Regions from separate parts of the Homo sapiens genome. Here regions 1 and 2 are each linked to region 3. The links come from fine-mapping of genetic effects on gene expression. A gene starts in region 3. Each other region holds a variant in brackets. All regions are shown on one strand. Distances are between the middles of the regions. Region 1 has its middle 76 kb from the start of IPO5. Region 2 overlaps IPO5 (importin 5). Region 3 holds the start of IPO5 (importin 5).

Region 1 (11,177 bases), 77 kb after region 3:
TGAGTGAGTGCCTGTTTAAGCAACGTGAAAGGCTAAGGAGCTAGCTAAATGTTTTAATAACTGCTTCATTCTGCCTAGGAGGATTGTTGGGTCAGTTTTCTCTGCTGCACAGAAATCACTTTGCAGGTCGGGCGCGGTGGCTCACGCCTGTAATCCCAGCACTTTGGGAGGCCAAGGCAGGCGGATCACCTGAGGTCAGGAGTTGGAGACCAGCCTGGCCAACATGGTGAAACCACATCTCTACTAAAAATACAAAAAGTAGCCAGGTGTGGTGGCAGGCACCTGTAATCATAGCTACTCCAGAGGCCGAGGCAGGAGAATCACTTGAACCTGGGAGGCAGAGGTTGCAGTGAGCCGAGATTGTGCCATTGCACTCCAGCCTGGGCAACTGGGTGAGACTCCATCTCAAATAAAAATAAAAAAAAAAAAACGAAATCACTTTGCTTCTCTTAACCTTCTTTGCCACAAAAGATTAACAGCCAAAACCTGCCATGTTTGCTATTCCTAAGCAGATTTTCTTTCTCGGCCCTAAAAGTATGAGTACCACTATTAGAAGAAGAAAGTGAATGATCCACAATGTATGCACATCACACTTGGGAGGAAGCATGAATATTTATTTCCAGCACTTGGAACTTCTGAATGGTGGTGCTGAGGAGCAGGGGTTAATTCTAACAACATCCTGCCCTAGACTTAAACCCTTTTTTCCCCACACAGCTGTAACCCTTACAGTGTATGCCAGACAACATTTGGGCTGATTATTTCTATGTATTTATTATATTTGGATGAATACAAACATTTTAAAGATAAATTATAGCTATATTATTCACTTCTCAATGAATCCAAAAGTGGTACAATATAATTTTTTGTAAAACATTACAAAAAATTTTTTCTAAATTCCACTAAGGCAGCAGAGTATAATTATGAAATCTGTTCTTTCATGATTCAGGAGCTTTCATTGTGTATTTCCTTTTGATTGATCTATCATTTCTGTCCTCTTGACTAGCATTCAGATTGTAATGGAAACCAGAATAGTGCCACTTGATATGAATCAGAAATTAGTTCCCCTATTTCCCCTAAAAGTTTTGTAACAGATGGGTAGAAAATGTAAGAGTTTGGATCAGCCCGACAACTTGCTCCTGTGATCCTAAGGTGCACCATAAAAGACCATGGTGCTGTATGGTTAAGACCAGAGGTTGGCAAATGTGTTCTCTAAGTTCGAGATAGTAAATATTTTAGCACTCGTCACCGAACAAGTATGTGTTTGCAAGTTATAGGGTCTCACAAACTGCTTAGCCGTTGCAGTGCGAAAGCAGTCATGGACCATAGTAAACAAACGGGTTTGGCTGTATCCCAGTGAAACTTGACAAAAGAGGCTAGCCATAGCTGCTGACCTCTGAATCAAATCACTGTGTCAGTTAAAAAATCCCAGTCTACCATGTACTCAGCTTACCTAACCTCTGTATGCCTTAGTTTCCTTCTCTGTAAAATGGGAACAATAATAGTACATACCTTATAGAGGGTTCAGATGGATTTAGAAGCCAGGCACATTAAGCATTAGCTATCAGAATTACACCTAAATTCTATTAATACTTACAGATAATTTAAGCAAACTTTTTTTTTTTTTTTTTTTTTGAGATGGAGTCTCCCTCTGTCACCAGGCTGGAGTGCAGTGGCGCGATCTCGGATCACTGCAACCTCTGCCTCCCAGGTTCAAGTGAGATGCCTCCCAGGTTCAAGTGATTCTCGTGCCACAGCTTCCCGAGTAGCTGGGACTACAGGTGTGAGCCACCATGCCCAGCTAATGTTTGTATTTTTAGTAGAGACAGGGTTTCACCATGTTGGTGAGGATGGTCTCTTGACCTCGTGATCTGCCTGCCTCGGCCTCCCAAAGTGATGGGATTACAGGTGTGAGCCACGGTGCCCAGCTGCAAACTTTTTTTTTTTTTCAAGTTCTCTAATCAGCCTTGGCATTAGGAGGAAGCCTAGAAAGTTGTGGAAAATATTGGGAAACTTTGCAAAGTCAGTGAAGTTGTGCCATAAACGTGGTGTATGTGGACTATTTTACTTTCTTGACACTGTGATTCTGGTGTTTGAAGATGCCTGATCTGCATAAGACATGGCCCTAAATGCACCCATTGCCTCATCTGGAGCTCCACCCTAAAAAGCAGCAGTCTGTCCCTGTTTGGAGAAGACATTCAGTTTGCTGCAAGAGCTGGTTTGTTCGGTACACTGAACTGTAGGTCACCAGGGACTTTTGCCCCCATGCTCACATGAATCTGGCATCTATGTAGGATGAGATCACTGTCAAGGCCATTGTACAGGAGTGGACAGCTGGAAAGCTTTGCCCCCTGGGGTCACACTTCCTGCCTGGCTGTGGCCCCTTGCGGGAGCTCCTTAATCTCTTACATAAAGTTAACGGCTACCACACAGGGTTGTTGTAAGGCTTAATATATGTATAAAGCACCTAGAGCAGTGCCTAGCATTGTAGATTTGATATTATGAGTACACATGCTGAAGAGATGGAAGTACATTTGGATAGCATTTCTTTTTGTTAGTGTCAACCTAAAAGAGGATCTCAAAAAGAAAACGTTTATTTGGGAGTAGAGCATTGCAATGGGAATGTACATGCCATCATAGATGATGAGTATATTGAGGGAAAAAAAGGTTTTTGTGGGTTTTTTTGGTTTTGTTTAATTTTGTGATGACAGAGTCTCCCTATGTTACCCAGACTGCTCTTGAACTCCTGGGCTCAAGTAGTCCTGCTTCAGCTTCCCAAAGTGCTGAGATTACAGGCGAAAAGAGAAAGGTTTATAAAGGAAGAAATGAGGATTACATCGTTGTTTTGAGATAATTATCCCTGACTGCACAGGTCAGTAACAAGGGTGATGCCAGTCCAAGGTTGACAAGCAGTTGGATGTGTGCTTGCAGAAGTATTTTTTGTGTGAGGTTGCAAAGGCCTTTGTGCAAAGTTGTGATTTTTGTGGTCTTTGTCATCATGCGTACAAACATGAGAACCCTCTATGACCTTTCTAGCTGTTTGTCCGGGTGTTCTTAACATTAGTGACTCCTTTTTTTTTTGAGACGGAGTCTTGCTCTGTCACCCAGGCTGGAGTGCAGTGGCGCAATCTTGGCTCACGGTAACCCCCACCTCCCGGGTTCAAGTGATTCTCCTGCCCCAGCCTCGTGAGTAGCTGGGATTACAGGCATGTGCCGCCATGCCCGGCTAATTTTTGTATTTTTAGTAGAGACGGGGTTTCACTGTGTTGTCCAGGCTGATCTCGAACTTCCAACATCAGATGATCCAGCTACCTTGACCTCCCAAAGTGCTGGGAGTACAGAGTGAGCCACCGAGTCTGGCCTAGTGACTGACTCCATTTTGATTCTGACAATTTTCAAATTAGTTACCTATGGCATAAAACATGCAAACCATGGAAAACGGAAGTACTTGCTAATCAAGAATTTGATTGACTTTTATTAAGCTATTGACCAAAACTACGTTAGGCTTGCATAATAAAGGGCTGAGTAAAACACATGGTCTCTGCTACAGGGGACACATCATTAAGGAAAAGTAAAGGGTGCACTGGGTGTACCCTTTGATGAAGAAATCAAAGAAGTAAATTCACTTAATATTGCAAATAGGATGTGCATTGAGCTGCCTCAGTTTCAGCATTATAGCAAACTGCACCAAAGATAAAAATACATGTGCTCCTGGTCATTGAGAAATCCCTCCCCAGGTGATGCATTTTCCAGCCTTGCTACTCACAATTGGTTGTTCTTGGGCTGCTGCAGAGGTGACCCAGAGTGGGGCATTTGTGACCAGACAGGTCACCGGATGTGCTCCCTTGGAGGGTGAAGGAGCCAGACAGGCAAGCAGGAAGTTTTGGTCTCCCAAACTGCCTTACACCCAAACCCAGATCCTTCCTAGGGGCAGTATTGCTATGAGATAGTCCCCTTTCAATTAACTGACAATTGGGTTGGCAATGAAGAAAACCTGCCAGATTATTTGTAGCCATTTAGAAAGTTGGCCCCAACCCCCAGAGCAGTTACTGTCTTGTTTCATCCGTTCCTAGAAATCTCCTAATGGGGTATGTGGTCTTGTTTGGTGTGTCTGTTTCTGTCCCGAGTGTGCTGCTGCTGCTTAATCACACTCCTGAATTTTCTCAAATCTTCTATGATTTAGGGATTAACTGGCATGTTTTATCTAGTTTTAAGAATTTAGCCAGCCGGCCCAGTGGCTAATGCCTGTCATCCCAGCACTTTGGGAGACCAAGGTGGGTGGATCACAAGGTCAAGAGTTCGAGGCCACCCTGGCCAATATGGTGAAACCCCCGTCTCTACTAAAAATACAAAAATTAGCTGGGCGTGGCGGGAGGCCAAGGCAGGAGAATTTCTTGAACCTAGGAGGCGGAGGTTGCAGTGAGCCAAGATCACCACTGCACTCCAGCCTGGGTGACAGAGCGAGACCCCGTCTCAAACAAAAAAAAAGAATTTAGCCATTGAGGCTGGGCGCAGTGGCTCACACCTGTAATCGCAACATTTTGGGAAGCTGAGGTAGGTGAATCATTTGAGCCCAGGAGTTCAAGACCAGCCTAGGCAACATGGAGAAACCCCATCTCTACTAAAAATGCAAAAAAAAATAGGCATGGTCGTTCAGGTGTGTAGTCCCAGCTACTTGGGAGGCTAAGGTGGTAGGATAGCTTGAGCCTGGGAGGCTGAAGCTGCACTGAGCCATGATTGCATCACTGCACTCCAGCCTGGGTGACAGAGTGAGACCCTGTCTCAAAAAAAAAAAAAAAAGCCATTTAAATAAAGTCCCTTTTGATTAAGAAATATTGAAAGTGAAAATATTTAAGCAGTTAGGACCCTATTGCATTTTCTAATTTGAAAAAGAATGTACAGTTTATTACTGAAGGGTCAAAGAAGATAGATGTGTTTGAAGAAAAATATAGCCCATCACTATCTTGAGTGTTCTCCAATTGGTTCTCATGGGAAAAGGCTGCCATTATTACAAATGGTCAATAGCCAAAAAACAAAGGCTCACATTGTAGCTGATATTTCAAGAAGAATAAAAATACAAAACAGCAACACTAATGTGGAGACTGGCGATGGGCAGAGACCTCCTTCTGGAAGGAAATTAATGAAATGCCTACATGTCTTTCTGATGGGTAGGAACTATTCTAAGAAACCAACTGCCCACCTGGTTAACCCAACCTGAATTCTTTAACCAGACATTATATAAGTCAACAATGAGGCCGGGCGCGGTGGCTCACGCCTGTAATCCCAGCACTTTGGGAGGCCGAGGCGGGCGGATCACGAGGTCAGGAGATCAGGACCATCCTGGCTAACACAGTGAAACCCCGTCTCTACTAAAAATACAAAAAATTAGCCGGGCGTGGTGGCAGGCGCCTATAGTCCCAGCTACTTGGGAGCCTGAGGCAGGAGAATGGCGTGAACCCGGGAGGCGGAGCTTGCAGTGAGCCGAGATCGCGCCACTGCACT[A/C]CAGCCTGGGCGACAGACAGAGCAAGACTCCGTCTCAAAAAAAAAAAAAAAAAAAAAAAGTCAACAATGATTAACTACATTTATTTTTTGCCTCTAAAATATCTCTACAACAAAATCTTTGAAATTTAAGTAAATTTATAACACTCTTGACTAAATTATCTGAAAAGGGTTTTTTTTAAAACGTCCTCCCATAAGGAAAGATGATCAATTCTTATGTATCGTTCTAGGGATATAAATATTCAGGAGGCTTTTCAGAATAAAAGTTAAATCATTTTAGCTGGGAATTCTCAAAATTTAACCCTGTTAAAGATGAAAGTTGGCGGGGCGCGGTGGCTCACGCCTGTAATCCCAGCACTTTGGGAGGCCAAGGCGGGTGGATCACGAAGTCAGGAGATCGAGACCATCCTAGCTAACATGGTGAAACCCCGTCTCTACTAAAAAAAAATACAAAAAAAAAAAAAGATGGAAGTTAAATATCTTTTGCCCTTTTCAATAAATGACAACCTATAAATTAGTATGGCCAGTGCTGGTGATCATCAAAATGTTGAGAATAGCATCACCATACTGAGTTAGAACCTCATTTCATCTTAAACTAAGTGGCATTGGGCCAAGTCTCCTTTAGTACAATTCAGCATATGAAGTTCTATTCTCATTGGGGAGCATATTTTCAAGTATGCGTTTTTATAAATTATAACAATTGCTTATTTTTTTAAATGTAATAACATTGTTCTGTTTTTAACATTTATTTTATGGTTACCTTCTATTTATGACAAATGAGTCAGGCTCGGTGGCTCATCCCTGTAGCCCTGTAGTCCCAGCATTTTGGGAGGCTGAGGTGGGAGGATTGCTTGAGCCCAGGAGTTCCAGGCTGCAGTAAGCTATGATTGTACCACTGCACTCCAGCCTGGGTGACAGAGTGAGACTCTTGTCTCCAAAACAAAAACAAATACCAGTTTTTCGTTTGTAGTAATGATTTAAAATTTTCTTTTCAAACACTTCAAAAAAAATAAAAGTCAGTGAGTTGATTTATTTTTAATGTAATGTAAACAGAGCTACAGTTCTGAGGACGTGGCAAAAATCATGCAGATGATACTGATGATGGAAGTTCAGGAAATCCTTTTTCTTGGCGGAGGGTAGCCATGCAAATATGTCTCTCAGAAGTTTTGTTCTACTTAGTTTAAAGAGATACAATGACTCTGTGGGACTGGATGAACAAGGCTCAGTCAGCAAGAAGAATCTGTCTCTGCCAACTCTCCCCATTAAACAGTAACTTCCCACCCACCACCCAGGCTCCTGGCAGCCCCCATTCTACTTTCTGTCTCTGTGAGTTTGCCTACTCCAGATACCTCGCGTTAAGTGGAAGCATACGGTATCTGTCTCTTCGTGTCTGCCTTATTTCACGCAGCATTATGTCCTCAAGGTTCATCCTGTTACAGGATGGGTCAGAACTTTCTTTTTAAGGCTGAATATGTTGCCTCTCTTTTATTTTTCTCTCTCTCTCTCATCCTTCTAACATCTGTATGACCAGTTTGCTCTATTAAATCCCTGTTTGAAATACCTAGTATGGTCTCTGTTTTTCTGATTAAATCTTGACAGATACTAAATGTACACAACAATTTATTTAGTGTATTCGATGTGTATATTTTTATGAGTAAATTAATAAGAAAAATACATTTTTTACTCTGTGATCCTCAGTTTTGACAAGTTAAACATTCCTTAACATACTCGTAAGAAGAAAACAATGTATTCAAGGAGGAAATGTTCATTTAATATTTTCAAGAAATGAATTCATTATAACAAGTTTTAGTTAATCAGTTCATTTGGTGAATTCAGATCATGGATAGTGGGCAAATCGATCTTTTAGTAACATAGCTTTTGGCAAATTAATGTTTGGTAAATTGGCCCCACTATTCTCTTTCACCCCAGCCTGGCTCAAAAGTCATTTCTTTTGTTGTTGTTCTTTTTTTTTTTTTTTTTTTTTGAGATGGAGTCTTGCTTTGTCACCCAGGCTGGAGTGCAGTGGCACAATCTCGGCTCACTGCAACCTCCGCCTCCCAGATTCAAGTGATTCTCCTGCCTCAGCCTTCCAACTAGCTGGAACTACAGGCACATGCCGCCACGCCCAGCTTATTTTTTATACTTTAGTAGAGACGGGGTTTCACCATGTTGCCCAGGCTGGTCTCGAACTTCTGAGCTCAGGCAATCTGCCCACCTCGGCCTCTCAGAGTGCTAGGATTACAGGCGTGAGCCACCGCGCCTGGCCCCAGCCTGAATTTGAATTGCATGTATATTCTCTATTTCCAAATCTCTGGATTTGGAAAGTGGACTTAACATCATTTTCTGCCTCAGTTCACTCATTGGGAAATGGAGAAACGCCTCCTTGGTATGGTTGCTGAGAGAATTGAGTGTGGACAGGAATGCAGAAGGCCTGGGAACCACGGGCAGACGCCCTGTGCTGTGCTGAGCCAGCAGAAGGCCTGCCTGGCCCTTGTACCTTACATCTCCATTCCCTTAAGAAAAGGAGAGTTTCGCAATTTCTAAAAATTAGCATCTACGGTGTCTACTAAGTTATTTTATCTCAGAACAAAAATGTAACAGAAAGGTTGATAGTGTACACAGTAAAATAATAAATGGAATTTGTGGTGACTGATTTATACTGTGATTATCTTAAAACCTAAGAACATTATATTTTAAAAGTTTTGCTCTTTTATCTGAAAATGCAAAATGTGTTTTTTATTATATATTTTAAGGATTCATCATCCCTGAATTATGCTACAGGAAAGACAATTGCCACCCCACAAAATCAGTATATGGAAAGTCTTATTACTGGGTTTTTTTCATAATTCAGACTATCAATAGTTTGTATTCTGAGCAGCTTATGTGTGGTTTTCATATTGTATTTTGAATGGCCTTTTTGGTTATTTAAAAATGTGTCTCAGCCGGGCGCGGTGGCTCACGCCTGTATTCCCAACACTTCGGGAGGCTGAGACGGGCGGATCACAAGGTCAGGAGATCAAGACCATCCTGGCTAACATGGTGAAACCCCGTCTCTACTAAAAATAAAAAAAAAATTAGCCAGGCGTGGTGGCGGGCGCCTGTAGTCCCAGCTACTCAGGAGGCTGAGGCAGGAAAATGGCGTGAACCCGGGAGACAGAGTTTGCAGTGAGCCGAGATGGCGCCACTGCACTCCAGCCTGGGCGATAGAGCGAGACTCCGTCTCAAAAAAAATAAATAAAAATAAAAATGTGTCTCTCTGGCCAGGCGCAGTGGTTCACGCCTGTAATCCCAGCACTTTGGGAGGCTGAGGCAGGCAGATCACTTGAGCCCAGGAGTTTGAGACCAGCCTGGCCAACATGGTGAAACCCCGTCTCCACTGAAAATACAAAAATTAGCTGGATGTGGTGCCAGGCACCTGTAATCCCAGCTACTCAGGAGGCTGAAGCTGGTGAATTGGTTGAACCCTGGGAATTGGAGGTTGCAGTGAGCTGAGATGGCGCCACTGCATTCCAGCCTGGGCAGCAGAGCAAGACTCCGTCTCAAAACTAAACAAATAAATAAATAAATAAATAAATAAGCCTCTCTCTGGAGAAAACTGAGAACCTTGAGGGGGCAGCAGAGGAGCATCACTCACTGCTTTAAAAAGTTAGAGAACGACGGCTTCTGGAGCTTCACCATCTGAGGGAAAAATGCTTATGTGGAAGCATTTCTAAAGAATATACCAATTAGATGAGAAATGCGTCAAAGCTGAGGACTTCTCTCCAGGTGTACGGCGCGGCTGCCGTTTCAGCTGCTGGTCAGGGCCCTGCCTTCATCCTTCCATGCTCAACTGAATTCAGAGGGCAGACAGGTGAGAATGAAGCTCATCATGAACAATAGAACCCTAGGGGCAAGAAAGGTACAAATGATTCTCTAACAGAGCCATCCTGGGTTAATTATTAGTGTGTCTCCCACGAAGCCCGTCCTGGGTTAATCATTAGTGCGTTTGTACTGTCTCTTCTGATCCCCCTCCCTTGTTGGGGAAAATAATCTCACTAACAACATAAAATTGGTAAGGCTTGAGGTCTGAGCTATTATTTAATTAAAGTTATTTTGAAATTTTTGTTGTTGTTTTTTGAAACAGGGTCTCACTGTCACCCAGGCTGGAGTGTGGTGGCACGACCTCCGCTCACTGCAATGTCTATAAGCCCGGGCTCAAACGGTTCCCCCACCTCAGCTTCCCGAGTAGCTGAGACTACAGGCATGGCCACATCCCCCGGCTAATTTTTTTTTGTTTTTTGTAGAGACAGGGGTCTCAGTATGTTGCTCAGGCTAATCTTGAACTCCTGGGCTCAAGCAATACACCCGCCTCAGCCTCCCAAAGTGCTGGAATTATAGGCATGAGCCACCACACCTGGCCTGAAAGTATTTTTAATTGGGAGATACTTTAGAAACCTTTCTATACATTCAGTGCCAAATAAATGCAGTCATTAACGTGACAAATAATTAATAGCTATTTGATTATCTAGTGTTATTTTTTAAGTGCCTTTTTCTTTTTTCTTTTGAGACAGGGTCTCACTCTATCACCCAGGCTGGAGTGCAGTAGCGTGAACACAGCTCACTGCAGCCTCGACCTCCCAGGCCCAGGTAATCTTCCCACCTCAGCCTCCCAGATAGCTCAGACTACAGGTGCACCACCACGCCCTGCTCATTTTTTATGCTTTCTGTAGAGACAGCGTTTCTCACTATGTTACCTGGGCTGGTCTCGAACTCCTGGACTCAAGTGATCTACCTACTTTGGCCTCCCAAAGTGCTGGGATTGTGGCCGTGAGCCACCACACCCATACTTTTTTTTTTTAAGAGATAGGATCTCACTCTGTCACCCAAGTCTGGAGTGGTGCAATCATAGCTCACTGTAGCCTCAAACTCCTGGGTTCAAGCCATCCTTCCACCTCAGCCTCCCAGCAGCTAGGATTACAGGCATGTAGCGACACACCCAGATAATTTTTTCATTTTTTGTAGAGATGGAATCTCGCCGTGTTGCCCAGATTGGTCTCAAACTCCTGGCCTCAAGCAATGCTCCCACCTCAGCCCCCAAAGTGCTAGAATTATCGGCATGAGCCACGGCACCCAAACTTAAGGCAATATTGAGATTCCAGATTCCACATATTCCCACTAGAATTATGGCCTGCTACAATATGGTAAGCAAATGAGTAAGAATTTGGAGAAACCTTGAGAGTTTTAGGACCACAAATAATAACATAGTAGGATTAAGGGAAACATTGAGGATAAATATTAGAAAATATGAAAAAAAGAACTGTTACCCTAAAATACAGGTTAAGCTAGCTCTATGTACTTAACACATTTCTGAAGAAGAATGCATGTTCCATATGGTGAATACTTTTTATATTGTTATAAATGTGGCACATGCCCATGGAGAGAATGATAGCCTTTATGCATGATGAAACCCGTCATTTTGACATAACTCTGGACTTGCTCAATTATGTCTTTTGCCATTACTATCCATTTTAATGCATTTAGCTCTCCCACTCAAAGTGGGCAAAAAGAATGCTCAATTTATTGATTTCTCTGTATAACCAAAGGCAGACATGGGGGTGCGCACCTGTTACCTCAACTACTTGAGAGGCTGAGGCGAGAAGGTTGCTTGAACCCAGGAGTTCAAGGCTGCAGTGAGCTATGAT
Region 2 (11,177 bases), 44 kb after region 3:
CACCACAGTTCCCATTAGAATTGGTGATAAGATTTCCTAAAATAGTAAGGTTCTGAACAAAGCAAAGTAGAGGTTGAGTGTCTCTTATTCAGAATGCTTGGGAGTAGAAGTGTTTCGGATCTCAAAATCTTTTCAAATTTTGAAACACTGTATTTGTGTTATACTTACCAGTTGAGCATCTCAAGTCAGAAATCCGAAATACTCAAATGCGCATTTCCTTTGAGTGACGTGTCTGTGTTCAAAAAGTTGAGGATTTCAGAGCATTTTGGATTTGGGATGTTCCACCTGTATGTATCCATTCTTGATTGATACAGTAGTTACATTGGAGGGGGGGATAACAGTTGTTAAAACCAGGCAAAAAATAATTTGTGAGTTAGTTTCTAGGTTCAGATCATTATAAAGAGTTTTCTCCTTTTTATAAATGTCTGGGATTTGTAATAATGTGAAATGCATAATGAGAAGATCATGTAAGTCCCTTGTGCTTGTGTCACAGGTGCAGGACATTTAGTATCCATGGCCTTTGCCCATCCTCAATCGTGTGACCATCAAGAAATATCTCCTGGGTGAAAACCATTCCTCTTGAGAACCACTGAGTTAGAGAGGATTTAGAGGAGCTAAAATTGAAGGTTTCCACATGATAAGTTATTTAAAGGATTTAGTGAAACTTCTCTCCCCCTGCTATCACAATGAAAAGATAGTTTCGTGACAGAACATAAATTGTAACATACTATTGCTTTAGTAGTTTATTATCTGAAATCTCTAGTTACTGTTGAAATCTAATCCCGGTTTTCTTCCTCTGGATTTAGAGTAAGTTAAAATGTTTACCACAACTTTTAAGAGTTGTTATTCTGAAATAGATAATGATAAACACAAAATGCATACTTTAATACCACAGTGACCAGACTTAACATCCAAGATAAATAAAATGGGTAATATTGGACACTTTAAATGTATTACAGGTTCTAGTACTTACTATGCGTATGAGAAAAACTAGGGCATGGATATAAGAAAGGACAGAAGAGCCAGGTGTGGTGGCCACACATGTTGTCCTGGCTACTCAGGAGTCTGAGGCACAAGAGTTGGAGGGTACTGTGAGCTATGATTGTGCCACCACACTCCAGCCTGGGCGACAGAGCGAGACCTTATCACTGAAAAAATAAAAGGACAAAGGAAAGGGACTCCTGGTTATAAAAAAAAGTAATTCCTTGGTAGCCTTAAGTATTGTAATGGTTATTATAGTTTCACTGATTTTCATTTTGACTTAGATGTAAATCTGTTTTGAATGTTTCTAGTTAACATCCATCAGAAGGAAGGTATACATGTGCCTGCAGGTAGAACATTTGCATAATATAGATTGCTAAATTATTTAGTGAAAAATAGTTTAGTAATATTTCTCTATTGTCAGCATCTTAGGAATCTTTTGGCTAATGAGGCATTATAAAGTGAATCTTCAGCACCGACTTTCTGTTTCATCTTTTCTAGGCGGTAAATGACTCGTGCTACCAGAATGATGATTCTGTCCTAAAATCCCTCGTTGAGATTGCAGATACTGTTCCAAAGTATTTGCGTCCTCACTTGGAAGCAACTCTACAGCTAAGTCTAAAGGTAAATTAAGTACGTTAGTAAACGTTCTGTTTGTTATTTTCAGGGACTAATCTAAATTATTAAATGTATACAAATATGTCTTCTTTGTAGTTGTGTGGAGACACTAGCCTCAACAATATGCAACGCCAGCTTGCCCTTGAAGTGATCGTCACCCTCTCTGAGACTGCAGCTGCTATGTTAAGAAAACATACCAATATTGTTGCACAGACTAGTAAGTCAATGGTCTTCAGATAGTTTATGTGTATTGTGGCCAAATTTTTGGATAAATTTGCTGAGGGTTGTGTGATTTCTCAGATTGTTGAGAATATAATGAATATCCTTTTAGAATCAGATGAATTTGGGAAAATGCATCTCAATACATGCAAGCGTGGACCCCCACATTGTGGTTATGCCTTTAAGACTTTGCAGACACCCTGAAATCTGGTGTTAAAAATAACATTTCTAGAGTGGAGTGTGACAGACTCTATCATTTATATGTTAATATTGGGCACAGTTAATAGAGTCAAAAACAATTCAGCGGGGATATATAGATGCACAGTAGCGAACTACAAACCAAAATAGCATGTCTTGCTTACCAGTGAAGCCAAGATTAGAAGAACAAGGTCTAACACTAGTCATGGCTCTGTTCACTATATTACATTGCTTTTGTTTTATAGACCCTCGTTGCAGCAGAAACTTAAATGGCTATTGTGCTATGGAAATACTACTTTAAGTTTCATTGTGCTGGGATAAGGACTTGAGAACTAACCTGATCATTTTCTGGCCTAGCCATTTCTTAATGAGCTAATGAGTACTTGAACACTTAATTTAGAGGGTAAATACGTCACCAGATTTATTTTGTAGTGGTACCTACCTTTTGTCTTACACTGAGGTAGTGGTTGGAATTTTAGAAACATTCCCATTTAAGTCAGGAACAAGAAAAATATCTCCTTTATCACTGTTCATGTTGTACTGACTGCCCCAGCTGATGCATTAAGAGATAAAAATAAGTTATAAGCATTAGAAACAATGGCTGGGTGCAGTGGCTCATGCCTGTAATCCCAACACTTTGGGAGGCCGAGGCGGGCAGATCACCTGAAGTCAGGAGTTCAAGACCAGCCTGGCTAACATGCTAAAACCCCGTTTCTACTAAAAATACAAAAAATTAGCCAGATGTGGTGGTGCACACCGGTAATCCCAGCTACTCGGGAGGCTGAGGCAGGAGAATTGCTTGAACCCGGGAGGTGGAGGTTGCAGTGAGCCCAGACCATGCCATTGCACTCCAGCCTGGGCAACAAGAGCGAAACTCGTCTCAAAAAAAAGAATTAGAAAACAAAAATATTGCTTATTTGTAGGCTATGTGGTTATTGTCTACAAAAAGTTTTAAAGACTCAACAGATAAACTGCTAATCAAAGGGTTAAGCAAGATCCTTAGATATGAGAACATTTTATTGTAAGTGTTCCATTATTCATAATAATCATTTAGAAAATTTTATAGGCATGAGTTATAGTAACTGGGAATAAATCAAAAGATGTACAAGACATATGGGAAAGTTGAATAACATATTGAAAGACTAATAGAAGAACAAATTATCAGTTCTCAAATTAATCTAGGGTTATGATAGAACAATCCTGAAATTCTTCTGAAAGAACATAGGGCCTGGAGTAGCCAAGACAATTTTGACGAATAAAGTGGAGATCTTGTTTCATCAACTCTGTGAATTTAGAATGCATTGATGATGCAGGTGTTGACAATGGATCGGATGGAACAAAGGGTAGAGTGTAGGAGAAGATCCGCTCACATGGGAACAAAGCCATTTTTAAAAAGATAATTGATCAAAAGTTCTTGGGGCCAGGCATACTGGCTCAGGCCTGTAATTCCAGCAATTTGGAAAGCCAAGGTGGGTAAATTATGTGAGCTGCTGAGTTTGAGACCAGCCTGGGCGACATGACGAAACCCTTTCTCTGCCAAAAATACAAAAATTAGTCGGGCATGGTGGCACACGCCTGTGGTTCCAGCTACTCAGGAGGCTGAGATGGAGGATTGCTTGAGCCCAAGAGGTCAAGGCTGCCGTGAGCCAAGATTGCACCATTGCACTCCGGCCTGGGTGACGGAGTGAGACCCTGTCTCAAAAAAAAAAAAAAAAAGTTTCTGGGATATCTTTCTTTCATTCTTTCTTTCTTTGTTTTTTTTTTTTTTGTTTGTTTAATAGGTTTATGGGGAACAGGTGGTGTTTGGTTTAGTGGTGATTTCTGTGATTTTGGTGCACCCATTACGGGAGCAGTGTACACTGTACCCATTGTGTAGTCTTTTATCCCTCACTCCCCTCCCACCCTTTCCCCTGAGTCCCCAAAGTCCGTTGTATCATTCTTACACCTTTGCATCCTCATAGCTCAGCTCCCACTTATGAGTTGAGAATATAACTGGTTATTTCTATGGGGAAAAAAATTCCAACTCTAGACAGCTTATTAAAAAAACAGGCCGGGCGCGGTGGCTCACACCTGCAATCTCAGCACTTTGGGAGGCCGAGGCAGGTGGATCACGAGGTCAGGAGATCAAGACCATCCTGGCTAACACTGTGAAACCCCGTCCCTACTAAAAAATGCAAAAAATTAGCCGGGCGTGGTGGCGGGCGCCTGTAGTCCCAGCTTCTCGGGAGGCCGAGGCAGGAGAATGGCGTGACCCGGGAGGCAGAGCTTGCAGTGAGCCGAGATACCGCCACTGCACTGCAGCCTGGGCAACAGAGCAAGACTCTGTCTCAAAAATAATAATAATAATAATAATAATTTGGGGTCTACTCAAGACCTGAATATTACCTTGCACGCTGGAACTAGTTAAAAAAGTTAAGGGCTAAATATTACAGATATATTTTACAAGTAATGCTTAATAGTAGATAATTTTCTAAGACTGAATCACAAACCATTGATGTAAACATTGCCAAATTGGCAAATGCGAAAACAATTTTTTGACCAATCAGATACACCATAAATGAACTGAAAAAATAAGCCACAAACTGGAAGAAAATAATTACAGTGCACACAATCAACAGTTTTGTTATCTAGAGAATACACAAAGGCTGAGAAGAGGAAATTCATTGCTTTTTTCTTCTTTAAGATGGGGTCTTGCTCTGTCATCCAGGCTAGAGTGCAGTGACATGATCTCAGCTCACTGCAGCCTCCCAAGTAGCTGGGACTACAGGCACGCACTACCACACCTGGCTAATTTTTGTGTTTTTTGGTAGAGATAGGGTTTTACCATGTTGCCCAGGCTGGTCTTGAACTCCTGGGCTCAAGGGATCCTCCCACCTAAGCCTCCCGAAGTGCTGGGATAACAGGTGTGCACCAGCAGGCCCAGTCAGGAAATTCGTAAAAGAGGGATCTGAAATAGCTAATGAACCCTGCTAAGTCTCAATAAAAACAAGTGTAATTGTGGAATACAAGTTGTCCAGAAGTTTGACAGTATCAATTGTTAATAAAAGATGTGGAACTGAGAGGACGCTTATTCCACCCCCAGGGCACTTCACACATTTTTGTGAAATAACGGAGACCTCCACTTAAACTTCACATAGTTTATGCAACAGCTGTGCAGAGCGCAGCTTGTTTGGTAATTTTCTTTTTTTCTTTTTTTAGACAGAGTCTCGCTCTGTCGTCCAGGCTGGAGTGCAGTGGTGTGATCTTGGCTCACAGCGAGCTCCACCTCCCAGGTTCACGCCATTCTCCTGCCTAAGCCTCCTGAGTAGCTAGGACTACAGGTGCTCGCCACCACACCCGGCTAATTTTTTTGTTTTTGGGGTTTCACCATGTTAGCCAGGATGGTCTCGATCTTCTGACCTCGTGATCCGCCTGCCTCAGCCTCCCAAAGTGCTGGGATTACAGGCATAAGCCACCGCGCCTAGACTTGTTTGATAATTTTTTAGTACTATTTGAAGATAGTAATAACAATTTCATGCCTAGACTCATGCTTGTCAAAGAAAAGATGTAATAATCTCATCAAAGCAAATTTTATAGGAGGAAAAAATTGGAAACAACCAAAATGTTTATCAGCTAGACAGTGGGTAGTATGTTTATATAATGGAATGCTATTAAATAAACTGAAATCCTTATGTGTTGAGAAAAAAGCAAATTGCCGAGGTACATATATTATGAAACCATTTATTATATAAAAAATCAAATCTTGAAATAGTACTATAATTTTGTATAGAGATATGGAAATCTGTAGTTCAAGTGTGAAAAAACAATTGCGGAATGAGAAACATTTGTGATGTTGCTTCTTACCTCTGGTGATGGGGAGAATGTAATCGGATTTGGGAATTTCATAGGAGGGTTTGACTTAATGAATGTTGCTTTTTAAAGAAACGATAAAAGCAAATATAACAAGGTTAAAATTTAACAAACCAGGTTTTGGGGGCACAGACAAATAATTGTTTTGTCTTGTTCTCTTACAGGCAAAGTAAAATCTTAAAATTCTTGTTTATAAATAGTGATATGGATAAGATAAAGTCACAGTCTTCGGGTATGAAATAATTGTTTACTTTAGTTCCTCAGATGTTAGCAATGATGGTTGATTTGGAAGAAGATGAGGACTGGGCAAATGCAGATGAACTAGAAGATGATGATTTTGACAGGTAATCAAACATTGTGTCCAGGGTGGCAGTGAAAGCCCTAGGGCTCCACGGTCCATCTCTTCACTATTGCACCCTGTAACCTGAAGGTAAACTTTTAAGCCTGGAATATGGGGCACTTTGCCTTGCTGTTGTATTTATTGCTGTGTCACAT[G/T]TTATAAGTAGTATTTTCTTTAGTTTTCATGTATAATTTATATTAATAAAATTTATGTTTCTTGGAAGTTCATAAAAATATTTTAATAGTTAATACATAAAGTTGTATTTTATAATCAGGAACTGAAAGATACCTACAACAACAAACAAGGAAGTTTTTCTTTTTTAAAAAAAAGTATGACATGAAAACAGCAAATAAAGTAGCTATGTTTTTTGTTTGGTTTTGAGACGGAGTCTCGCTGTGTCGCCCAGGCTGGAGTGCAGTGGCGCGATCTCGGCTCACCGCAAGCTCCGCCTCCGGGGTTCACGCCATTCTCCTGCCTCAGCCTCCCGAGTAGCTGGGACTACAGGCACCTGCCACCACGTCCAGCTAATTTTTTGTATTTTTAGTAGAGACGGGATTTCACCATGTTAGCCAGGATAGTCTCGATCTCCTGACATCATGATCCGCCCGCCTCGGCCTCCCAAAGTGCTGGGATTACAGGCGTGAGCCACCGCACCTGGCCAAGTATCTATGTTTTTAACTGTCGTACTCTAAATTATTTCCAAGTTTTTTGTTGTTTTTGTTTTTGTTTTTAGTTTGAATATCTTTTAAAACGTGTATAAAGCAGCTTTTTTGTGATAAATGCTTTTACAGGCAGAGACTTCCCTTAGAATAATTGTTTCAACAAAATTCCCTGCAATACACATCATATTTTCCTAGTAAAAAGCAGTTTAACTTTAGGATAGGCAGCATCCAGTGGTGAAAAGATGAGAGTCAACTGGGTAGAGTATTACTATTGTACTTATTTATTTCAGCTTAGGAAGTCCCATGAATACAGGAAAAGTCAACCAAAATCTGTATTCACTGTGCAGTAGTAATGATGGCCCCTTACATGTATGTGAAACATAGCACCTCTGAGCTCTGTTACTTTAATCAACTTTATTAGCAGTCCCAGAGGTGTATTATATTACAGTTGCAGAAAGGGAGATTGAAGATTGAGTGATTTGTCTGAGGTTATGTAGCCAGTTAATGGACTGGGGTTAATTACCATTGTTTTCATTCTTCCCAGTGCATTATACTACCACCTTTTCTTTAAAAAAGCTGAAATTGGCTGGGTGCAGTGGCTCACACCTGTAATCCCAGCACTTTGGTGGGCAGAGGCAGGCAGATCACCTGAGGTCAGGAGTTCGAGACCAGCCTGACCAACATGTTGAAACCCCGTCTCTATTAAAAATACAAAAATTAGCCGGGCCTGGTGGCAGACACCTATAATGCCAGCTACTCGGGAAGCTAAGCGAGGAGAATCTCTTGAACCTGGGAGGTGGAGGTTGCAGTGAGCTGAGATCACGTCATTGCGCTACAGCCTGGGCAACAGAGCAAGACTCCATCTCAAAAAAAATAAAAAGCTGAAATTATTCTCCTGAAAGACTTGGAGTCAGTATAAACTACTAGGTTAATAAAAGTAAAAATTAAAGATTTTTGGCTTTAGAATATATATGCATTTTTGAGACTTAATCCCATTGTTAAAAATGACTGATTTCTGGCTTTAATACTGTCTTGAAGTATATGAAAGTAATCTTTCACTGGAAATCACCTGATAACGGCTGAAGAGAAGACCAGGGCTAGGTCGAATTTCCTTTTTGGTTCAGTTACTGTAATGTGCTGCTACCTGTCCTTTCATTTGCCCTGCAAATGGCACTTAAATTTATACAGTTTAAGAAACTTTGTTTTCTAAACTAGATGAATAAGATTTTCTCATTTGTGAAACAGCATAAATATATTTTCAGGGTGAGATTTTTTTAAGTCTAAAAACCTGTTCTGAAGATAATTTATAGTTTCATTTTTATAGTATTGTCTTTACATAGTAAAGATAATGCACATGAAATACACTACTGATCCTCCAGTTCTAAGCCAGGATAAGTCCAAATGCTTTTATGCCCACATTCCTTTGGCTTTCAGAGAAGACAATAGAATTGAGTTTCACATAGCTATGCATAGTTTTTGGCAGTGCAGTTTGCACCCCTTTAAGGGTGAATAAACTCACAGTGGGGAAGATTATACATTCTCTGCACCCTTTTCAGTTTTCTATGTTCTGTTCATTGATAGGTTTGAAGACTGTATTTCTAGGAAATGAAATACATGAGGCTCTTTCAATACTGCTTTTACTGGAGTGTTGAAAGTGTCAGAAGCTATTTCTGAGAACAGTTTTTAGCCAGTAGCGGGTGGGGGTGGTCTTGAAAAATAAGATTCAGGCTGGGCACAGTGGCTCACGCCTGTAATCTTAGCATTTTGGGAGGCCCAGGCGGGCGCATCACAAAGTCAGGAGATCAAGACAATCCTGGCTAACATGGTGAAACCCCGTCTCTACTAAAACTACAAAAAAATTAGCCAGGCGTGGTGGCGGGCACCTGTAGTCCCAGCTACTCGGGAGGCTGAGGTAGGAGAATAGCATGAAGCTGGGAGGCGGAGCTTGCAGTGAGCCGAGATCGTGCCACTGCGCTCCAGCCTGGGTGACAGAGCGAGACTCTGTCTCAAAAAAAAAAAAGAAAAATAAGAATCAGGCATGACTTTCTAAACTATGGTGGATCATGATAAAAACATTTACTCTTTTTTCTTTTCTAAGCTGCAGAGTTTTTAACCCCTAATTTCAATTCCACATTTAAAGACAGCTTGAATTCTTTCTCAGTCTTAGTTTAATAATAATATGGTTAGAAGTATGTCTGTAGAGTATACTATTTCTTTTGTGTTTCAGATATATTGAGTACATAATTCTGTTTATGTGTTTAGCAATGCAGTTGCAGGCGAGAGTGCTCTAGATCGAATGGCTTGCGGACTTGGTGGAAAGCTCGTTCTGCCGATGATCAAGGAACACATTATGCAAATGCTTCAAAATCGTAAGCTGTGTCCTTCAAATGCTAGAAGAGTGAAGTTGTGCCCTTTCTAAAGCTTAAATTCTAAGATATGTTTAGACTGTTAAAAATTAATCTTTGTCTTTTTATCATCCATATTTAACCCAATTCATTTATTTTACCGATAAAATTGTCAATCCCAAAGAAAATGTACAGATTTACTTCCTAGCCAAAAGTATTTAGATTTGAATTTGAAAATGATGTTATTATTTGAATTTTTATGGAATATTAGAATGTTTGAATCATATACTCTTCTTTCACCCAATATCTTTTATTTTTAAAAGAAGAAACTCTATCTAATGTTATCAAAAGAGAAACCACTTCTTTCTTTCTGTTTTTGCCCCTGACGGAGGTGATGGTGGAAGCCCACCTGCCCTGGAGGGCAGCTGTTGTTGTTGACACAGGATTTCGCCATGTTGCCCAGGCTGGTCTCAAACTCCTGGCCTCAAGCAGTCCTCCTGCTTCAGCCTCCCAGAGTGCTTAGATTATAGGCATGAGCTACCACACCTGGCCATCCTTCCTTTTTATTTCTATGAATATTTCAGTTACCTTTGTACCTGTAATATATATATCAATCCCAAAGTTTATTGTTGTATGTGTTTTATTTTCATTTGTGTTTTTTAATTATAAAGTTAATGTGTTCTTTTGTTAAATTAAAATTCAGAAGTATTAAGTTAGAAATTTGTTTGTTTTTTGGTGGAATCTCGCTCTGTTGCCCAGGGTAATGTGATCTCAGCTCACCGCAGCCTCCACCCACTGGATTCAAGCGATTCTCCTGCCCTAGCCTCCTGAGTAGCTGGGACTACAGGCACATGCCACCACGCCCAGCTATTTCGAGACAGAATCCCACTCTGTCAAACAGGCTGGAGTGCAGTGGTGCAATCTTGGCTCACTACAATGTTCACCTCCCAGTTTCAAGCAATTCTCCTGTCTCTGCCTCCCAAGTAGCTGGGATTACAGGCATACACCACCACACCCAGCTAATTTTTGTACTTTTAGTGGAGATGGAGTTTCTCCATGTTGGCCAGGCTGGTCTCAAACTCCTAACCTCAAGTGATCCGCCCACCCTGGCCTCCCAAAATGCTGGGATTACAGGCATGAGCCACTGCACCCGGCCTAATTTTTGTATTTTTAGTAGAGACGGGGTTTCGCCATGTTGGCCAGGCTGGTCTTGAACTCCTGACTTTAAGTGATCCACCCGCCTCAACCTCCCAAAGTGCTGGGATTACAGGTGTGAGCCACCGCGCCTGGCCTGATACATACTTTTAGAATCAAGTAGTCACGCACTTTTTCTGTTCATTTTTCTAAAAAGTAAATATACAAATGTTTTGTTTTTTGTTTTTTTTGTTTGTTTGTTTCTGTTTTTTTTTTGAGACAGAGTCTCGCTCTTTCGCCCAGACCAGAGTGCAGTGGCGCGATCTCGGCTCACTGCAAGCTCCGCCCCCCCGGGTTCACACCATTCTCCTGCCTCAGCCTCCCGAGTAGCTGGGAATACAGGCGCCTGCCACCGTGCCCGGCTAATTTTTTGTATTTTTAAGTAGAGACGGGGTTTCACCACGTTAACCAGGATGGTCTCGATCTCCTGACCTTGTGATCCGCCCGCCTCAGACTCCCAAAGTGCTGGGATTACAGGCGCGAGCCACCGCGCCCGGCCTATACAAATGTTTTTATATTATATATACATATACCCTTTTCAAAAAAGTTTTGTTACTCTTTTCCAAATAAGAACTTTTATACATCTCCCTCTACCAGAATGACATGTTTATAGTGTGTAATTGCTATTCCATCTGTAATTTTTTTCGGTAGCTGACTGGAAATACCGGCATGCAGGATTGATGGCCTTATCTGCCATTGGTGAAGGGTGCCACCAGCAAATGGAAGGAATTCTAAATGAGATCGTAAATTTTGTTTTACTTTTTCTCCAGG
Region 3 (5,000 bases):
GAAATCAATGTATATTCCCCTAAATCCTGTCTTTGGTGTAGGTTTGGAATGCCCAAGGATCAGCCAGTGCAGTCAGGTCTGCTGGCACCTTCCAAAAAACCAAGTGATATGGTTTGCCTGTGTCCCCACCCAAATTTCATCTTGAATTGTAGCTCCCATAATTCCCGTGTGTTGTGAAAGGGACCCGGTAGGAGATATTTGAACCATGGGGGCAGTTTCCCTCATACTGTTCTTGTGGTAGTGAATAAGCCTCACGAGATCTGACGATTTTATAAGAGGTTTCTCCTTTCACTTGGTTCTCATTCTCTCTTGCCTGCCACCATGTAAGATGTATCTTTTGCTTTCCACCATGACTATGAGGCCTCCCCAGCCACATGGAACTGTGAGTCCATTAAACCTCTTTTTCTTTATAAATTACCCAGTCTCAGGTATGTCTTTTTTTTTTTCTTTTTTTTTTTTGAGACCAAGTCTTGCTCTGTCACCCAGGCTGGAGTACAGTGGCACAATCTCGGCTCACTGCAACCTCCACCTCCTGGGTTCAGTGATTCTCCTGCCTCAGCCTCCCAAGTAGCTGGGACTACAGGCACCCACGACCATGCCCAGCTAATTTTTCTATTTTTAGTAGAGACAGGGTTTTGCCATGTTGGCCAGGGTGGTCTCGAACTCCTGACCTCAGCCTCCCAAAGTGCTAGGATTAGAGGCATGAGCCACTGTGCCCAGCCACGGTCTTTATCAGCAGCATGAAAACAGACTAATACACCAAGCAACTGGTCAATGTCATAGGCACTGGAGAAACTTCTCGGATTTGTTCTTTTAAAATGTTCTTCAGGAAGGGCACAATGGCTCACCCCTGTAATCCCAGCACTTTGGGAGGCCAAGGTGCTCCCAGCTCACTTGAGGCCAGGAGTTCAAGATCAGCCTAGGCAACACAGTGAGACCCTCCCCCAACGTCTACAAACATTTTTTTAGAACATTAACCAAGTATGGTGGGGCATGCAGTGAGCCATGATTGCATCACTGGACTCCAGGGTGGGTAACAGTGCAAGACTGTCTCTAAAAAAAGAACTAAAAAATAAACAAATACGTAACTAAATAAAATGTTCTTCATACATTTTGCAGTAACCTTGTAACCATTCAATCGCTGATTCTGAATCTATGTAAATTCTGGTATCAGACCCTTGGTAAGATGCTTGAGCAAAATGCCATGAAGACACCTGCCCACAAGCCAAAATGTTAGAAGTCAGGTGCAGTAGCGAGCTCCTGCAGTCCCAACCACTTGGGAGGCTGAGGCAGGAGGATCTCTTGAGCCCATAGTTCGAGACCAGCCTGGGTAACATAATGAGACCCCTGTCTCAAAAACAAAAAAAGAACCAGTGACATAGGATGAGGACGAAGAAGCAAGGAATAGTGCTGAAGAACTTTCAGGATATGCGGGGTGACACTAGAAAGTGCTTAGACATCACACGTTACCAAGAAAAAAATGTGACCTATACAAAGGAGTCTGCCCATGTCCTATGAAACAATTTAAAAATCAAAAATAGGCCGGGTGCGTTGGCTCATGCCTGTAATCCCAGCACTTTGGGAGGCCAAGGTGGGCAGATTACGAAGTCAGGAGATCGAGACCATCCTGGCTAACATGGTGAAACCCCGTCTCTACTAAAAATATAAAAATTAGCCGAGCATGGTGGCGCGTGCCTGTAATCCCAGCTACTTGGGAGGCTGAGGCAGAAGAATCGCTTGAACCAGAGAGGCAGAGGTTGCAGTGAGCTGAGATCACACCAGCCTGGGCAACAGAGAGAGACTCTGTATCAAAAAAAAAAGAAATAAATAATTACAAAAATGGAGTTTGGCTTTAATTAATGATCTGAATTAATAAAAACAACAAAATGCTAGGCCAGCGCAGGGGATCATGCCTGTAATCCCAGCACTTTGAGAGGCCGAGGCAGATGGATCACTTGAGGTCAGGAGTTCAAGACCAGCCTGGCCAACGTGGTGAAACCCCATCTGTACTAAAATACAAAAATTATTCGGGCATGGTGGTGGGCACCTGTAATCCCAGCTACTTGGGAGGCTGAGGCAGGAGAATTTCTTGAACCCGGGAGGTGGAGGTTGCAGTGAGCCGAGATCACGCCACTGCACTCCAGCCTGGGCAACAGAGTGAGAATCTGTCTCAAAAAAAAAAGAAAAGCTAAATGTACAAAGCTAGGGCATTGAGATCCATGAGAATACAGGGCAAAATTGATGTTAATCTGTCATATAAAAATTTAATTACATCCCATAAATATCTGCAATTTTTTATTGTTTATTTTTTGAGACAAGGTCTCACTCTGTTGCCCAGGCTGGAGTGCAGTGGTGCAATCACAGCTCACTGCAGCTTCAACCTCCCCCGGCTCAGATGATCCTCCCACTTCAGCTTCCTGAGCAGCTGGGACTACAGGTGTGCACTGCCACACGCATCTAATATTTGCATTTTTCATAGAGATGGGGTTTTGCCATGTTGCCAAGACTGGTCTTGAACTCCTGAGCTCAAATGATCCTCCCACCTCGGCCTCCCAAAGTGCTGGAATTACAGGCATGAGCCACCCCGCCCAGCCAATATTTATAATTATTACATGTCAACTAAAATAAAAGAAAAAGTAATTTAATCACAAACCCAGTTGACATAAACGTATGTAATATGGAATTTCCTGTTGTTTCCATACAAATTTATCTTTGTCTATTTGAGAGATCAATTTCTCTTTTCAGTATTGAGTAGTGAATAGAATCAAAATCTGTGGGTAAAGAAGCTACTCAGACAGTTTCAAAACTGAATTTGATGACACATTTGTACCCAATCTGAGTGGCCCCCAGCAACATGGGTTTTGAGTTCTCAAAGGCCAATAGATAGCTCCCTTTCCTTTCCACAGCTTTGGGAGCTTGGGCTACCCTGTAACGTCTAAATGCCTGTGCAGTGTGGGCCTGTGAAGCTGGCAGGGTGGGCAGTGTAAATGCCCACTAGCAGGAGCCAGCTGACCTCCTGCGTGTCACAATAGCAGCCAGGTGTCTCCACGGTGACGTCTCTGAGCCAGGAGGTCAGAACTGTGGGATTGATGACCTCCCACAACTGGAGCAGCCGGGAACAGCTCTGACCACAGTAAGTCATCCCAAAACCTCACATTCAGATGAAACCATTTAAGAATTTCATCTGCACTGAGGAACAATTTAGCGTGATACTGGAGGGAAAGAGTTTCCCTGTGAGATCCAGGAGGTCCCTTTAGCTCGTCTCCTGACGTCACCACAGTCATACCCAAGAGGAAGGAAACGTCAGAGACAATGATTTGGAGAACATTCTACACAAAAACCAAGTATGAAACAATGACGATTTCATGATGGCTCATTGTTCTTTGGTATTGTGCCTTACGTGAGCTGGGGACTAACTCTGTATCCTTAAGGAGGCATCACTTGATTAGAGTTGCCCAAAAGAATGTGGGTTATTATCCTAAAGGTCTGTGTTGCCATCCTGAAACAGTCAGAAATCAGTTTTTATTTCACTTAGGTGGTTCCGGGGAGAAGCCTTTCCAGGACCCATGTGTAGGCACAACTGTTTTCCCTGATCAGGATACTTGCGGCACTCAAGTGAGTCTAGAATTATCAGATTTTGTTCTGTCTCTCTTCACTGTGAATTCTATTCTTTATTTCCTTTAAAACAAAAAGCTCCTGCTATTTTCTCCTATAATTATGATATCTGTTTCTTGATCATTTTACCTTCTATTCACCAATTAATTGAAATCCAACCCATCAGGATTATCTACCCTGCTTTCCTATAGGGAGAATAAAAAGTGCTTAGAAGCAGTATGATTTTCACTGCCTTTAATTTCTCAAATCCCAAGATGTTCCATTTAAAATCTTTAGAGTATCTATTTTGTCTTCTGTACATTATGGTTGTATTCCCTCAGAGGCCGAGTATATTTTATCTTAGTTTTCAGAGATCACTAAAGTCAAGTAAATGAAGGAAAACAGAATTCATTTTCATTATGGGAAAACAAAATCAATCCCTAAGTAGTCAAAAGATTACTTACTTAAGGAACCACCTGGTTAACTTCTTCTCCTAGAACTTAATCCCCTAACTAGGGGTAAAAAAGGCTCATTGTCATCTTATAAAGTATTAGATACCAGGGACTTGTCAAATGCTAATGCCTTTATTATAGAATGTTTAATTTAGACCTTCCTAAACAGTTTTGCTTTCTTCCGTCATTTGTCTGTGATGGAACCTCAAAGACACTAACTAGTATGCGAGACAGATTTGTGTTGGAACATTGTGTTAGCTTTCCAGTAGAGTTAAAACTCTGGAATGCAATTATAAACCTCCAAATGAAAAATACCGGCCGGGCACAGTGGCTCACACCTATAATCCCAGCACTTTGGGAGGCTGAGGTGGGAGGATCACTTGGGCCTAGGAGTTTAAGGTCAGCCTAGGCAACATAGTGAGACCCTGTCTCTACAAAATATAGAAAAAAGTAGCCAGTTATGGCAGAATGCATCTGTAATTCCAGGGACTCAGGAGGCTGAGGTGAGAGGATTCCTTGAGCTGGGGAGGTCAAGACTGCAGTGAGCCATGACTGTGCCACTGCACTCCAGCCTGGGTGACAGAGTGGGACCCTATCACGAAAAAAAAAAAAGAAAAATACCTAAGTGGCCAAATACCTTATAAAGTTCATGCATGCTACTCTACAGGAAATATCCTCAGCTGTCTTCTCTGTGCTGAGTTCATATACTCTTGTGCCTAGTTCATACATGCTTGGTCATCTGCCTTCCAAAGCACACAGCAAACCAGATGATGAGAGCAGCTGACAAGTGGAGACAGTTGTCATTTTATGTTGGCAGCTACAATAAATGACACTGTCTGATGGAGAAAATGAGCGGGGAAAACACTTCCAAAACACAGGCAGAAATATAAGAGTTGAAATCCCAGAGTTCCAGAACAATTTCACCTCAGGGCAAGCAAGCCTAAGTGGCCTGTG

The links. PIP is the estimated chance that this variant, and not a neighbour inherited with it, causes the effect.
Region 1: its variant is the best candidate, but not a certain one, in a credible set for the expression of IPO5 in fibroblasts (GTEx, PIP 0.82).
Region 2: its variant is the best candidate, but not a certain one, in a credible set for the expression of IPO5 in whole blood (TOPMed, PIP 0.77).

The regions. Positions count from the first base shown.
Region 1 is chr13:98,024,371-98,035,547 of GRCh38, forward strand. No RefSeq gene overlaps it. Among named protein-coding and RNA genes, the nearest start is that of IPO5, 76 kb to the left of the region's middle. The variant A/C (reference allele first, on the strand shown) is at 5,500.
Region 2 is chr13:97,991,410-98,002,586 of GRCh38, forward strand. IPO5 (importin 5) reads left to right here. Exons shown (of 29, transcript NM_002271.6): 10 at 1,483-1,605; 11 at 1,696-1,816; 12 at 6,122-6,209; 13 at 9,130-9,236; 14 at 11,058-11,177. Among named protein-coding and RNA genes, the nearest start is that of IPO5, 43 kb to the left of the region's middle. The variant G/T (reference allele first, on the strand shown) is at 6,361.
Region 3 is chr13:97,950,584-97,955,583 of GRCh38, forward strand. IPO5 (importin 5) reads left to right here and starts at 3,092. Exons shown (of 29, transcript NM_002271.6): 1 at 3,092-3,133; 2 at 3,536-3,615.